2 linked regions of the Homo sapiens genome follow. The protein of the gene in region 1 binds, or shares a complex with, the protein of each later gene. Each region holds a gene or a part of one and is shown in the gene's direction. Other genes may lie near its edges.

Region 1 (7,021 bases):
ACCTCAGTATCAGAGCAGACGTTTTGGGGGAGAGGCTCAAGGATCTCTCCCCATGATCCCCTGAGGTCTCAGGGATACTCATGCAGGTCATCATTTTGTCTTGTTCCCTCTCTCTTCTTTGGCAGTTTCTGAACTTCTGGAACAAACAGGACACATTGGAGCTGGAGAGCCCCTCGCTGACATCCACCCCAGTGTGCAGCCAGAAGGTGGTGGTCACCACACCACTGCACCGGGACAAGACACCCCTGCACCAGAAACATGCTGCGTGAGTGCTGCAGTGCCCCCAACCTTCGCCGTCCTCTCCCTCAGCAACACCAGACCATGGGCCTTGGGACCACTGGTGGAACAGTGGGGAGGGGGCACCCTTGGAATAACACTGAAGACTGTTTTAAGAAAGCCCTCTCCTTTCTGGCCACCACGATTTATCATTTTTATCGATATAGTTTTGGGCTCCACCTTTGCTTTTCCTCATTTGTATTTTTTAATTTGATAGTTTCCTTTTTTGTGATCCTCCTGCCTCAGCCTCCTGAGTAGCTGGGACTCCAGGTGCATGCCACCATGCTCAGCTAATTAAAAAAATATTTATTTATTTATTTATTTATTTATTTATTTATTTATTTATTTTGAGATGGAGTCTTGCTCTGTTGCCCAGGCTGGAGTGCAATGGCGCGATCTTGGCTCACTGCAAGCTCCGCCTCCCAGGTTCATGCCATTCTCCTGCCTCAGCCTCCCGAGTAGCTAGGACTACAGGCATCCGCCACCGCGCTCAGCTAATTTTTTGTATTTTTAGTAGAGACAGGATTTCACCGTATTAGCCAGGATGGTGTCGATCTCCTGACCTCGTGATCCTCCTGCCTCAGCCTCCCAAAATGCTGGGATTACAGGCGTGAGCCACCACACCCGGCTAAAATTTTTTTAAGAGGTGAGGTCTTGCTACTTTATCTGGGCTGGTCTTGAACTGGCCTTAAAGTGATCTTCCTGCCACAGCCTCCCAAAACGCTGGGATTACAGGCGTGAGCTACTGCACCTGGCCCTCATTTGATAATTTTCTGTCTCAGGAATGGAGAGTCCAAATTAGCCTGAAAAACATAATCTCTTCCGCTTCCTAAGGTTTCAGGTGCAAATTCGTTGTGTTTGAGCAGCCTTATGTGCAGGGCGAAAGTGCCCATCCCTCTATCAAGAGTGGAGACTGCATTCCTGTCCTCTGAGCTTACGGAGCATGACATTTTCTGTCTGGAAGCCTGTACAGGTTGCTCGCCAGCCTGCTTTTACAATGGAAGTGCTTTTACAATAAGTTTACTTCCTTGGGTCATCATGATTCTAAATTCCAGGTAGAGAGAGTTGCTTAACTATTCCTCTGCTTGATACATTTGCTGGAGGAGGAAATCGCTATTTTGTGATTCAGAAATCAGCTCAGGAATTTTAGCCCTGATAGTGATACATAATTTCGGGAAAAGATTTGTGAATCCCTTAGTCAGAAATCAGTCTCCAAAGTCCGGCTCAGTGGCTCACACTTGTAATCCCAGCGCTTGGGAGGCCAAGGTGGGAGGATCACTTGAGACTAGGGGTTTAAGACCAGTCTGGGCAATATAGGGAGACCCTGTCTGTACACAAAAAAAAAAAAAGTTTTTTTTTTTTTTGAGATGGAGTCTTGCTTTATCACCCAGGCTGGAGTGCAGTGGTGCAATCTCGGCTCACTGCAACCTCCGCCTCCCGGGTTCAAGCAGTTCTCCTGCCTCAGCCTCCTGAGTAGCTGGGATTACAGGCACGCGCCACCACACCCAGCTAATTTTTGTATTTTTAGTAGAAACGAGGTTTCACCGTGTTGGTCAGGCTGGTCTCAAACTCCTGACCTTGTGATCCACTCGCCTCGGCTTCCCAAAGTGCTGGGATTATATGTGTGAGCCACTGCTCCCAGCCAAAAAAAATTTTTTTAATTAGCTGGGCGTGGCCGTGTGTGCCTGTAGTCCCAGCTACTCGGGAGGCTGAAGTGGGAGGATTGCTTGAGCCCAGGAGTTTGAAGCTGCAGTGAGCTATGATTGGCTACTGCACTCCAGCCTAGGTGACAAAGCGTGACTCTCTTTCTAGTTTTTTTTTTTTTTAAAAAAAAAAGAGAAAAAAGAAATCAGTCTCTAAAGAGTTGATCTAAAGCATAACTTAGATAGGTTTCGTGAGAAATGATTGTCCGTTCAAACCAGAATCTTGGACTTCGCATCTAAGCCCTTAAACAGAGATGCTGTCACTACAAAAGGCATTGATACTTCTCTCTCTCCCTTTCTTTCTTATCCATGTGGCCTCATTTGCTGCCTCCTTCCAATTCCTTTTTTCCATAGGAAGAAGCATCTCCAGTGCTCTTCATTCCTCTTTAGATCCATATTTCCATCTGGTTCCTTCTGAAGGCCATCCTTTAACCATGTAGTGTGGGCTTGCTGGTGATGAGTTCTAATTTTTATATTTTTTTGCTAATTTTTCTATTTTTTTGTAGAGATGGGGTTTCGCCATATTGGCCAGGCTGGTCTCGAACTCCTGACTCAAATGGCCTGCCTCGGCCTCCCAAAGTGCTGGGATTACAGGCGTGAGCTGTAATCCAGCTGTTATTCCTTTGTAGAGAGTCTCTTTAGTTATCCCTCAAATTTGACAGGCTGTATGGTGGTGTGGTATTTCTCTATTTTTTTCCCCCCCGGCTTTCATATCAGACTAAAGATTCAAACCTTGAGCTGAGGAAGTGTTTATTTCTTTAGTTTTTCTTTCCCTGTCTGCCCCTTCTCCTACCTTAGGAATTCCTTCATATATAGGCTGGATTGGTCTCTGTGTCTTTTTCGTCTTCATACGCCTCTTCACCATCTTAAGCCATTTCCTTAATCTTCGGAGAACATGATGGGATTGTTTTCTGATTCACCAGTTTGGTTGTCTGTGGTTTCCAACTTGCTGAATTCTCTGATTTACAGAGCTGCATTTTTTATCTCCAAGCAATCTTTTGAATTCCCTTTTCAAGTCAGCCTCCCTGCCTCCCTGAGTTTTCTTTTTGAGACAGTCTTGCTCTGTCCCCAAGGTTGAATACAGTGGTGTGATCATGGCCCACTGCAACTTCTACCTCCCAGGATCAAGTGATCCTCCCACCTCAGCCTTCTAACTAGCTGAGAACACAGGTGTGCACCACCATGCTTGGCTAATTTTTTTGTTTTTTTGAGAGACAGGGTCTCACTGTGTTGCCCAGGCTAGTCTTGAACTCTGGGACTCAAGCAATCCTTCCGCCTCAGCCTCCTAAAGTGCTGGCATTACAGGGGTGAGCCACAAGGCCCGGCCTCTCCCTGAGTTTTCTAATGTGTGTATATACACTCTTTTTTTTCTTTTTTCCGAGACAAGGTCTCTCTTAGTCACCCGGGTTGGAGTGCAGTGGTGCAATCATGGCTCACTGCAGCCTTGAATTCTGGGCTCAAGTGGTCCTCCTACCATAGCCTCTGGAGTAGTTGGGACTACAAGCACCACCATGGCTGGCTGATTTTTTTATTTTTAGTAGTGATGGAGTCTGTGTTACCCAGACTGTTCTTTAACTCCTGGCCTCAAGTGATCCTCTCCTGTCAGCCTAACACTAATCCCAGAGTGTTAGGATTACAGGCGTGAACCACTGCCTTTGGCCATGTGTGTGCTCTTAGTCCTTGTTGATGCCACGAATTAGAGAGGTTCTGGAATTTTCTCATGTTCCTCAGAAACTCCATGTCCCATGGAGATGCTTGAGTGGCTCAGATTCACCTCTGTGAATTGTGGTTTGAACTGTAAGATGTGTACATTTGACTTGTGCTTATCTGTCTTCACTCTTCCTTACAGAGGGGGATCTCTGTGTGTCCCAGATGGGGGATAACAAGGGTTTGGGAAGAGACTGTGGATCCCTGCCTAATCTCTAGGTCCTGAGGAAGGAAGAAAAGAATGGTCTGCATTTGTTCTAGTTTTTTATCTCCCCATGGAGTGGCTGGCCAGCTGCGGGAAGTGGAGGCGGCGAGGCCCCAGGCTGCTGTTTCTAGGAGTTGGCCTCATCACCCAGGTCCCTGGCTACCTGGGGTGTTTCTCTCATCCTCTGAGTGCCCTGGTTATGCCATGAGAGTCAGCCATGGTGGTATCTCCAGGTGACTAAGGTCACATACCAGCACACAAGGGTTCGTGTTTGTGGAACCTGGTAGCTTCCTTCAGAGCTGACATTTGCCCACAGCCAGCCTGGCCCAGCCCCATACCACCAGCCCTGGCGCTCTGGGGCGTGAGGTGCCTTTTCTGCCCCCCTGCTCTAGGGCAGGTGGAAATCACCCATGGTGGGTCTACATCTGATAGAAGCATCTTATAGTTCTGCTTCTGGACCAGACCATCCTGGGTTTTTCTCTGTTCTGCTGAAGGGTTCCCTCCACGTGTCCATCACCTCGGTGAACTCTTGGGAGACCTGGGAAGATGCTGGCCTCACCTCTCGCCCCTCCTTTCCCTCATTGTGCTGCCACCATCCTTCTCACACAGGCTCTCCAGGGAGAGCTGGGCAGGATGGGATCTTCCTGGGTTCCCACCTTGCTCCGTGCCCCCTCTCACTGTTCCTGAAGTGTGGCCACGGACTGCCTTGTTTTCTGGAAAGTCCCAAGTCTGGACCATGACTGAGCAGCATTCTCGGCTATCTGCCACCTGTCTGGGGCTCCTGGCCCCTCTTAGACTCCCCTCTCCCTTCTGTTTCCCCCGAGCCCCTGACTTGGACCTGCAGGGTGGGGAGAGGGATGGGACGAGAACCTGTGCTGGGGCCAAAGGTCGCACTGGGGGAAGGTGGAGCCAGGGCAGCAGAGTGCCTGGCGTCGGCCCCTATCCTGTCACTAGTTCCCCCGTTCTGGCCCCTGGCAGGTTTGTAACCCCAGATCAGAAGTACTCCATGGACAACACTCCCCACACGCCAACCCCGTTCAAGAACGCCCTGGAGAAGTACGGACCCCTGAAGCCCCTGGTACGTGGTGTGGTCGCTGCCGTGGATCTCTGCACAGTGGGATCCCTTCGGTTCATCCAACCATGTTCAGTCCACAGGACCCTTCCCTCTGAGGTCTCATTTGATTCTTTCTCCTGAGAAGATGCAGAGATCCTGATAATATAAATGGGGAAGCTGAGGCTGCTCTTTGTCACTTCCTCCGACTGCTCCTGAGCACCTGAGTTTGCAAGCACGCGCCGGCTGGTGCTAGAGACATGGTGGTATCCCGTGACACTCAGCCTCAGGATGGGGGAGACTGATGTGAAATACAAATAACTTAAACACTTTCAGGCAAAGATAAGCACTGGGCCTAGTTCAGAGAAGTGGCAAATTGCTACTCTGGCCTGTCTCTGACCAACTCCCAGTTCTCTACAGAGCACGGGAAAGCCCCTCGGGGACGTCTTTCCTGCAGTGTGCAGGCTGCCCTTCTCCCCTGCTCTTCCCAGTTGATGGGATGGTTGTGTTTTCTCTATGAAAAAAGGAGTTGGCACCTTGGGCTTTCTGAAACACACAGGTGTTTTAGAAATCAGTGGAGGGTGAGAGAAAGGCATGGTTGTGGAGGCACTGGACTGTGAACAAGGTCTGCAGCGGGTCCCCCTGCTGTCTCTCTCCACTGCATGGAGCCTCCTATGAAGCCCAAGGTGGCTGGGGGCTGAGGCTCCCTTGGGCCTGCCATGGAACTGATTCTGAGTCAAGCAGACTTTCCACGGACCATGCTACATGAGCCGAGGTGAGGCACTAGTTAGTGCTCCTTTCCTGTTGCAGTGGAGATTTGGCTCCTCTGTACTAAAATATCTGCATGCTCTCCAAACAGGTGTGAGGGCAAATCACATGACCTTGGCAGCTGTAATTAAAGTTTGTGGGGGCTTTTCGGATGACTTATGAGGAGTGGCTGTGATTCGCACCTTTCACTCTTAGTAGCACTCGCCCTCCCCTGTTCTCTGTTGCCTGAAGCTGGAGAGGTCCTTGGAACCCCGAGGCCTGAGAAAGGGAAATGGGTTTGAGAGCCCCCATTAGTGTGGAACAAAGGGTTGAGTGAGCCTGGGCTTTGAGCTGTCGGGGTCCTAATTCAGCAGCTGTGTGACTGTGTGCCAGGCTGTTGATCTCTGAGCTTCTGTTTCTACCTGCTTAAAATGACGGTTACTGCACAGGGCTGTGTGAGGGTTACAGTGCGTCTCTGGGCTGCTCCCAGCCATGGCAGGCCCCTGGGAATCAAGGTCATCAGCTGCTTGTCCAAGGCAGCAGTTAGTGGTTGTGAATGGTGCGTGTGAGATCTGCATCCTGGCGTCAGGCCTCCTTCCTGCCTTACCCAGGACAGCCCAGTTGCAGCTGGGTTGGTCCCACAGTCCCACACACACACAGCCCGAGTGTGGTGCCTCACGTGGGCTGCCCCGTGCCTACCCACAGCCACAGACCCCGCACCTGGAGGAGGACTTGAAGGAGGTGCTGCGTTCTGAGGCTGGCATCGAACTCATCATCGAGGACGACATCAGGCCCGAGAAGCAGAAGAGGAAGCCTGGGGTGAGTAGGGTAGGGGTGGGAGAGCCTGGGCAGGGGGAATTGGAGCCGTGGCATGGGGGAGGCGTCTGGGGACAGGTTGTAGAAAGTGAGGCGCTGGGGAGAATGGGGGCGTAGCATATCCCCTTTGCCCCCTTTCGCACGGTGGTTGTTGAGGAAACTGACAAGATAAGGACAGTGTCTCTGGGACCCTCCTCTGCTCTGCTTTGAAGGATTCACTTACTTATCCAGCATTGTGTTCGGACCCTGCTCAAGTTGGGCTGGGCTGGATGTGGTGGATGGAGCAGCAATTACGACCCAGACTGGATCTCCCCTTAGTGTTCAGGGGGCAGAGACAGATGCTAGACAGACACACCATGACTGAATTCACAGGGTACCAAGGGCCGCAGAAAGGGAGGTTCCAAAGGAATCTTTTGGGTGGAGGCGAGGCGGTCGGGATGAGCCAGCCAGGCCAGGCAGTGCCTGGCTGAGTGTCAAGCTGCATGAGCTGGGGGTGGGGGAGTGGGTTCAGGTGAG
Region 2 (7,319 bases), on another chromosome or scaffold:
AGGGAGATGATTCTGAAGGGAATTACCAGGATGGCCACTGGGCACATTTTTGAGAATATTTATGTTGTAAAAGAGGGATTCTCATCAAGGAAGGATACCAACAGTCACTGGAGATCTTGGTAGGCACTTAATTTACAATATGTAATTTAATCTTCATGATAACCCTTCAAGAAAGGGAGAAGAAAACTAAAAACTACTACTGAGAGTAATTTGTTCAAGAATACACACAAGGGAAGTAGGTGAACTGCAATTTGAACCTAGATCCTGGGGCCATCAGTACTCCTGGTGTACTTGGATGCTGGAAGAGGAAATGCTGAGTGTGGAGTCCTACCAGCAACATAACTTAAAAATATATATATTTATAGGCTGGAGAGCCTTTTTACCTCATTATGGCTGAGATACTCAAGCAAGGCAAACTGAATTGTCTTTGTTTTTTCATTACTAACTCAAATTCCCAACTTTATCAAAAGTATTTATAAAAACATTCACACACATACTATACACACACACGCTTTTTTTTTTTTTTTTTTTTTTTTTGAGACGGAGTCTCACCCTGTCACCCAGGCTGGAGTGCAGTGGTGTGATCTCAGCTCACTGCAGTCTTCACCTCCTAGGTTCAAGCAATTCTCCTGCCTCAGCCTTCCAAGTAGCTTGAATTACAGGCACAAGCCACCACGCCTGGCTAGTTTTGTATTTTTAGTAGAGACTGGGTTTCACCATGTTGGTCAGGCTGGTCTCAAACCCCTGATCTCAGGTGCTCAGGCGATCCACCTGCCTCAGCCTCCCAAAGTGCTGGGATTACAGGTGTGAGCCACTGCACCAGGCCCCCAACACACACATTTTATCTTTAGTCATTGCAACTGTTTTCACAAAAATAATCCAACCCAATAATTGATAAATAGGCCACAGGACTAGAAATGGTCAAACCTGGTATTTCTAAAACGTGGCCATGTTTATTTTTCTTATGGTATTTTTAAAATTTTTTAGAATTTTTGTGGGTACATAGTAGGTGGATATATTTATGATGGTACATGAGATGTTTCTTATGGTGTATTTTTATTTAGGTTTTTCATGACTTAATGACCTTATCCACACCGTGGTTTGTTTTTTTTAAAAAGCAAACACCACACACAGTCATGTCATTTTAAATTGGAATAAGTGATTGCAGGAAACTTAATACCCCTGTGTTGCATGTTGCTATGGTTTGAATGATGGTATTCCCTCCAAAATTCAGTTGTAACATAATCCCCAATGCAACAGTATTAAGTGGTGTGGCCTCTGGGAGGTGATTAAGTCATGAGGGTTCTGCTCTCGTGAATGGGGTTAGCACCCTTATGAAAGGGCTCAAGACTGAAGGAGGTGTTCTCTTGCCTTTCTGTCCCTTCTACCATGTGAGGACACAGCATGCATCCCCTCCAGAGGATGGAGCAACGAGCCACCATCTTGGAAACAGAGAGCTGCCCTCACCAGACACCAACATTGGCACCTTGATCTTGGACTTCCCAGCGTTTGAAACTGTGAGAAATAAATTCTTGTTGTCGGCTGGGCACGGTGGCTCATGCCTGTAATCCCAGCACTTTGGGAGGCTGAGGCAGGTAGATCACTTGAGATCAGGAGTTCAAGACCAGCCTGGCCAAACTGGTGAAACCCTGTCTCTACTAAGAACACAAAAATTAGCCAGGAGTGGTGGCAGGCACCTGTAATCCCAGCTACTCTGGAGGCAGAGGCAGGAGAATCGCTTGAACCCAGGAGGCAGAGGTTGCAGTGAGCCGAGATCACACCATTGTACTCCAGCGTGGGTGACAAGAGCAAAACTCCATCTCAAAAAAAAAAAAAAAAATTCTTGTTGTCTATAAATTACCCAGTCTCAGATGTTTTGTTATAGCAGCACAAATGGACAAAGACATACGTGTAATCCTCCCATCACAGAGGGAGTCACTGAGGCACCGAAAAGTGGGCTAGATTCCTGATTCTAGCACTTGCTTGCCATTGTCTTTGGACAAATTACCAGGTTGTTGGGAGAATCAAGTAAGCCAATCATTGTAAAACCTGTCATAAATATTCAATAACGAAACTTATTGAAGAGTTAGGTGTGCCTTGGCTTCGATCACACAGCTAAGCGCTAGATCTGGGGCTAGGATACAGCTTCAGGCTTTGGATTTATGAGAAGAGTCAAAGTTTTTGTTTAAAATGCAGATTATCAGGCAAGGGCCTAAAAACATTGATTTAAACAGTAGTTGTGTTGTTGCGTGTACATGAAAACTGCCTCAGAATAAAACCAGGTTTGCCTTGGTCTAATGACACCTTGACTATCATGACATTCACAAAGCTTTTGCTTCTCCCACTCTGGTAACCTCTCATGTTTTTTTAATTTCTATTCTTCCATTCTTAAAGGGCTGACCTTTTCTTGATCTCATCTCCAAATTGATACTGAAGTGCAAGCTGCTGAAGCACCCCCTAGGTGCTGACAACAAGGACCAGTGTTTTAATCTTCTTAGGGAGCAGATCAGAGTGTGTTTAGAAGGCAAAGGAGAGGTTAAGCTAGCTCTGAAGGAAGGATTACTTTGTAAAATTGAACTTTCACCCTCCCTGCTCACTCCCTGCTCTCCCTCCTACCTTAGCATGGCAGCACCCAGTTACCCAAGGCACAGAGCTGGCATCAGCAATGAGACTTCCTTCTCCTCACACCCAGTGACTCACCCAATCCTTTATTTTCCACGTCTTGAAAGGTGGAGTGCATGCTGCCACCTCTCTCTAATACTGCCTATGCTGTGGTAATGGTGGTAATAGTGGCTAGCTGATGGGTGCTAGCAGCTAGTATAAGGTCCTTACATCTATCAAATCGTTTAGCCCTCAAAATAACCCTGTTATTTGCATTTTACAGATAAGAAACTGAGGCACAGAGAATTCGGTTAAGAAACCAACGTGCCTGAGATTATACAACTAGCAGCCCATCTGGATTCTTCCCATCGAGGCCCTGGGGCTCCAGAGCCCACCCGCTGCACCTCTCTAGCTACCAGTGCAGGCATCTCTCTTCTGTCCTTTGCATGCCCCAAATAAGCTTCTTCCTGACTGGTTTCTAGGCTCTCATCTTGTCCCCCACCAATCCATTTCCCATATTTTTGTTCTAAAACACAAATAGAAACGTGCCCCTCTTACACCCGACTTTTCCACTGCTCCAGTGGACTAAGCAAGTTCAACTCCTTAGCCTGGGCGGGCCTCTGTGTACCACTCTGTCACCTTAGTCTACCGCCTTTTAACTTTGTAGTTCCTGGAATTCACCCACGTTGTCTTTTGACTGCTTAACGGTCTCATTCCTCCAACCCCCATAAATTCCTGGAGAAAAGGATTGGAGCTCAATGACATTCGTTAAATGAATTTTTGAAAAGCAACAGTGTTTTATTACTGGAAAGTGTTACAGACAGATATTGTGAAATTTTTCCTTGGGCTTCTTTCAATTTCGTTCAATTCTCGTCCAGTATTCTCATAACATTTGGATCAGGTACTTTATCACCTTGTAGTGTCACTGTTCCTTTCTGTATCCTCTCGAAGCCTCCTGTTACTCGTTTTCTAATTCTCTTCCAGCCCACTGCACGATCTAGTGTCGAATGGATGAAACAGCTGAGCAGAACAGTTCTTTAGCTGTCGGCCTAAATGACCAACTTCATGACCTCTCAAGGTCTCGCTCCCCGGCTGCACGCAGCTCAGCTTCCAACATTCGGGAAAGGCGTGCCCGGATCGCGAGGGGCCGCTGGGACCGAGTCCCGGACGTCGCGACGCGCAGGGGGCTGCTGCGGCCGGCGGTCTCGGGAAAAGTGAGGGGACGGAGGCGCCCAAGCAACGTGGGTTTCGGGAACTGTGAGTATTTCACTTTGCGTAGAGCCCCCTCGGGCAATGCGACCCAGAACCGAGGGCTTCTTTCCCCCCGCCGGGGCCTCCCTCCCGTTCTCCACTCGGAACAAACAGCCTGCAGTTCCCGCAGCTGCAGCGCGGGCCGCGGAACATGCGCCGGGAGCGGGGCCCGGGCGGGACTCCGGAGCTGGTACTGCTCCCCCCGCGCTCCGGCGCCGGGCCTCGCCGTGCGGCCTCCTTCCTCCCTTCCTCCCGCCCGGCTCGGCCGGAGGCGGCGGCGGAGGGGCGAGGCGCGGCCCCCCTTCGGCGGCACCTCCTCCCCGGGCAGGCGCGGGCGGAGCCGGGCCCGCCTCAGCCAGCCGCGGCGGGAGCAGCGCAGCGCGGCGCCGCGGGCAGCGAGCTCCGCATTCGAACCTCCCTCGCAAAGACAGTCTCCGCCCCACAATGCACCGCGGCGGGCAGCCTTTGAAAAAGCGGCGCGGCTCGTTCAAGATGGCGGAGCTCGACCAGTTGCCTGACGAGAGTGAGTAGCACCTCAAAGCACCCCCCCCTTTTCCCGCCTGCTGCTTGCCCAGCGGTTGCACCGGCCGGGACGGACGGCCGTGCCCTCCGCTGGGCAGGTGGGCTGACTGCCAGCCCCACTGTGGTCCCCTAGTCCTCCCACTCCGGTGTTGCCGCCGCGTCGCCGCCTTTGTTATGGTGTCTGTGTGTTGGTTTCTGGGGTTGTGTGAGCGCCAGGGCCGGAAACCGAGAGCCCGGGAGTCCAGCCTGTGCCAGGCGGAGGCGGTGGCTGCTCCCCTGGCGCCACTCCGGCCCCCAGCCGAGGTGGAGGGAAGAGCGGCCCCTGGGCGCGGGGGCTGTCCTCGCCGCCTGCACCACTCGCCCGGCGCCGAGAGACGCCCGCCGGGGTTATGTAACTCGCCTGTCCCGGGGCCGGGGGAGGGCTCGGGCTGGGCACGGGGTGGTCCACGGCCCCTTCTTCTTGCCCCAGCCTCTGATCTTGTCCTGTCACAGCTCCTGCCTCTACGGGCACTTGTGATCTTCACTGTCCTCCCCACCCCCCCACCGGTGTGTCCACCCCTGGAAGTGTTTCCGTGTCAGAGGGTTGGCCCCTTCCCCTGGGACCACAGGTGGCTGTGGACCTTTCCTGAGATCATCCAGCCCGGATACTCAGTGTTCAGGTAGACCCCGTCCCGCAGACTTTATTCTATATGTGTCTTAAGAGCCATAAAGGTACCTTTATGCATGGATGTGACCAACACAGCGTACGTGTACCCTGCCTGACACCCACCCTAGGGCATTGCCTCCCCTAACCATGTTTACTCACCCTGACATCTAAGACATGTATGCTCACTTGTGTTGAGTAAGTAAAAGCACCAATTCCATAGTTTAAGGGCAATGGAACTTAATTTTGTAATTTACAATATTGCATAAATTATATGAAAAGACAAATATGTTATTTAATTACAAAAAAAAGTCCTGAATCCACTTTCACTATTCAGTTTATACATATTTGTGAAAGGCTCAATTACTATTGAATCTTATCTATGCACAAGGCAAATGGACTTAAAAATGAGGACTCAACATACTACCGATTCCATTTTCTTTGTGAGGTCATGTGTTCTTAGTAAGTTATAAAGTTAAAAATTCAAGTTGCCAAGCTGGTGAAAAGTCGTATTAAAAGTGTTTGTGTTTTAAATTTGATAGAGAGCAGCACTAAGTCCCCAAGGAACTTTGTCCATGATAGAACTGTTCTCTTTTGTGATGTCCAGTAGGGCAGCCAAGCTACTAGCCATATGTAGCCATGGAACATTTCAAATGTGGCTAGAGTGATGGAGGAACTGAATTTTGAATTTTATTTAATTTTAACTTGCATAGTCACATGTAGCTAGTAGTCACTGTATTGGGTAGGGCACAGCTATTGACCAGTCATGAGCTGTACTGTTTATTTGTAGAATACAATTGATTGTGATTTATTTTATTTATTTATTTATTTTGAGATGGAGTTTCACTCATTGCCCAGGCTGGGGTGCAATGGTACTATCTCGGCTCATTGCAACCTCTGCCTCCCAGGTTCAAGCGATTCTCCTACCTCAGCCTCCCGAATAGCTGGGGTTACAGGCATGTGCCACCACGCCTGCCTAATTTTTTTGTATTTTTAGTAGAGATGGGGGTTTCTCCATGTTGGTCAGGCTGGTCTCGAACTCCCGACCTCAGGTGATCCACCCGCCTCGGCCTCCCAAAGTGCTGGGATTACAGGCGTGAGCCACCGCAGCTGGTCTTGATTGTGACTTAGAATGCTCCCAAATGAGTGTGGACCTACTAAGCACAGTGTACTTGTCATCCGAAAATGTTTTTCATCATCCTTGGTATCTTTATCATAAACATGTCTTATCACCTCTTGGATGTCACAATCACTAGAGCTACTGTTTTGGTTACTGTAGTCATTCTGTTGTAATGAGAGGCATTTTAAGTGGCTTTCTTACAACTGCCATTAGGAATATTTGCTTCATATCATCCAGCATTTATTGAGAATTTACTGTGGTTCTTTGTAGGGACTTGGGATTTATATTAGGGTTCAAATTCCAGCTCCACTTTCAAATTATATAACCTAATCATTTATATTACTTTGTGACATCTCTGGTGCATTGGTGTGTATTTGTGAAGCGTATGTCTTGTTTAGGTAGACTTCAGCTTTGTTGAAACCAGGGATTTTCTTTCTTTCTTTGTCATACAGTGCCACAAATCAAGTATACATAAATAATTTTTATGGAATTAGTGCAAAGTAACAGGTATTATTACTGAAACTAGAGCAGGGTCTTGAAAAGGAAAAGCGATTTCAATTTGATACTGGAAATAGCAGTATGTTTTTTGGCCACATTTAGTCAAGGAGGCTAGCTAATATATTGTTCAGGAGTCGATATAACATTATCAATAATGAAAGCTACCATTTATTGAGTATTTACTATGAACCAGATGCCATGCAAAGGATATTACATGTATTTGCTCATTTAATCTTCATTTCAGTTGATGTAAGTGCTCACATTTTATATAAGGAAATTAAGGCTATCTTCAGCCCAGATCTTTCCTGAGCTCCCTTTCTTGATATCTCTTGCCTGTTTCACATTTCTTCTTAGATGCTTCAAAGGCCCCTCAAACTGCACAGGTTTAAAATCCACCTCAGTCCTACCCCAGGACAGATACTTCTAGTGATTCGAATGGTTCCACTGTGCATTCAGCTGGCAGGGCAGAAACCTAGAGATTTTCTTTGGCACTTCCCTCTCTTTCTTTTCTTTTGTTTTTTTTTTGAGACAGAGTCTTGCTGTGTCACCTAGGCTGGAGTGCAGTGTGCGATCTCAGCTCACTGCAGCCTCCGCCTCCCGGGTTCAAGCCATTCTCCTGCCTCGGCCTCCTGAGTAGCTGGGTTTACAGGCGCCCGCCACCACACCTGGCTAATTCTTGTATTT

Evidence for each region. Proteins that work in one complex are often made in the same cells at the same time.
Region 2: the proteins of MYBL2 (region 1) and LIN9 are in contact, whole or in part, in a crystal structure (PDB 6C48), measured with the Homo sapiens proteins. Residues at the interface, in NP_002457.1 of Homo sapiens: Trp663, Ala667, Cys668, Gly669, Gln674, Met677, Gln678, Ala681, Arg682, Leu684, Leu685, Arg687; in NP_001353174.1 of Homo sapiens: Lys356, Gln385, Arg386, Tyr388, Ala389, Thr390, Val392, Leu393, Leu395, Glu396, Asn399, Leu402, Asn403, Leu406.

What each region holds. Positions count from the first base shown.
Region 1 is NC_000020.11:43,705,094-43,712,114, forward strand, and holds part of MYBL2 (myb-related protein B), read left to right. Parts: intron 1-125; coding exon 126-265; intron 266-4,869; coding exon 4,870-4,969; intron 4,970-6,394; coding exon 6,395-6,508; intron 6,509-7,021. UniProt on the Homo sapiens protein: Transcription factor involved in the regulation of cell survival, proliferation, and differentiation. Transactivates the expression of the CLU gene.
Region 2 is NC_000001.11:226,306,165-226,313,483, reverse strand, and holds the start of LIN9 (protein lin-9 homolog), read left to right. Parts: upstream 1-4,344; coding exon 4,345-4,375; exon of another isoform or gene 4,376-5,033; intron 5,034-7,319. UniProt on the Homo sapiens protein: Acts as a tumor suppressor. Inhibits DNA synthesis. Its ability to inhibit oncogenic transformation is mediated through its association with RB1. Plays a role in the expression of genes required for the G1/S transition.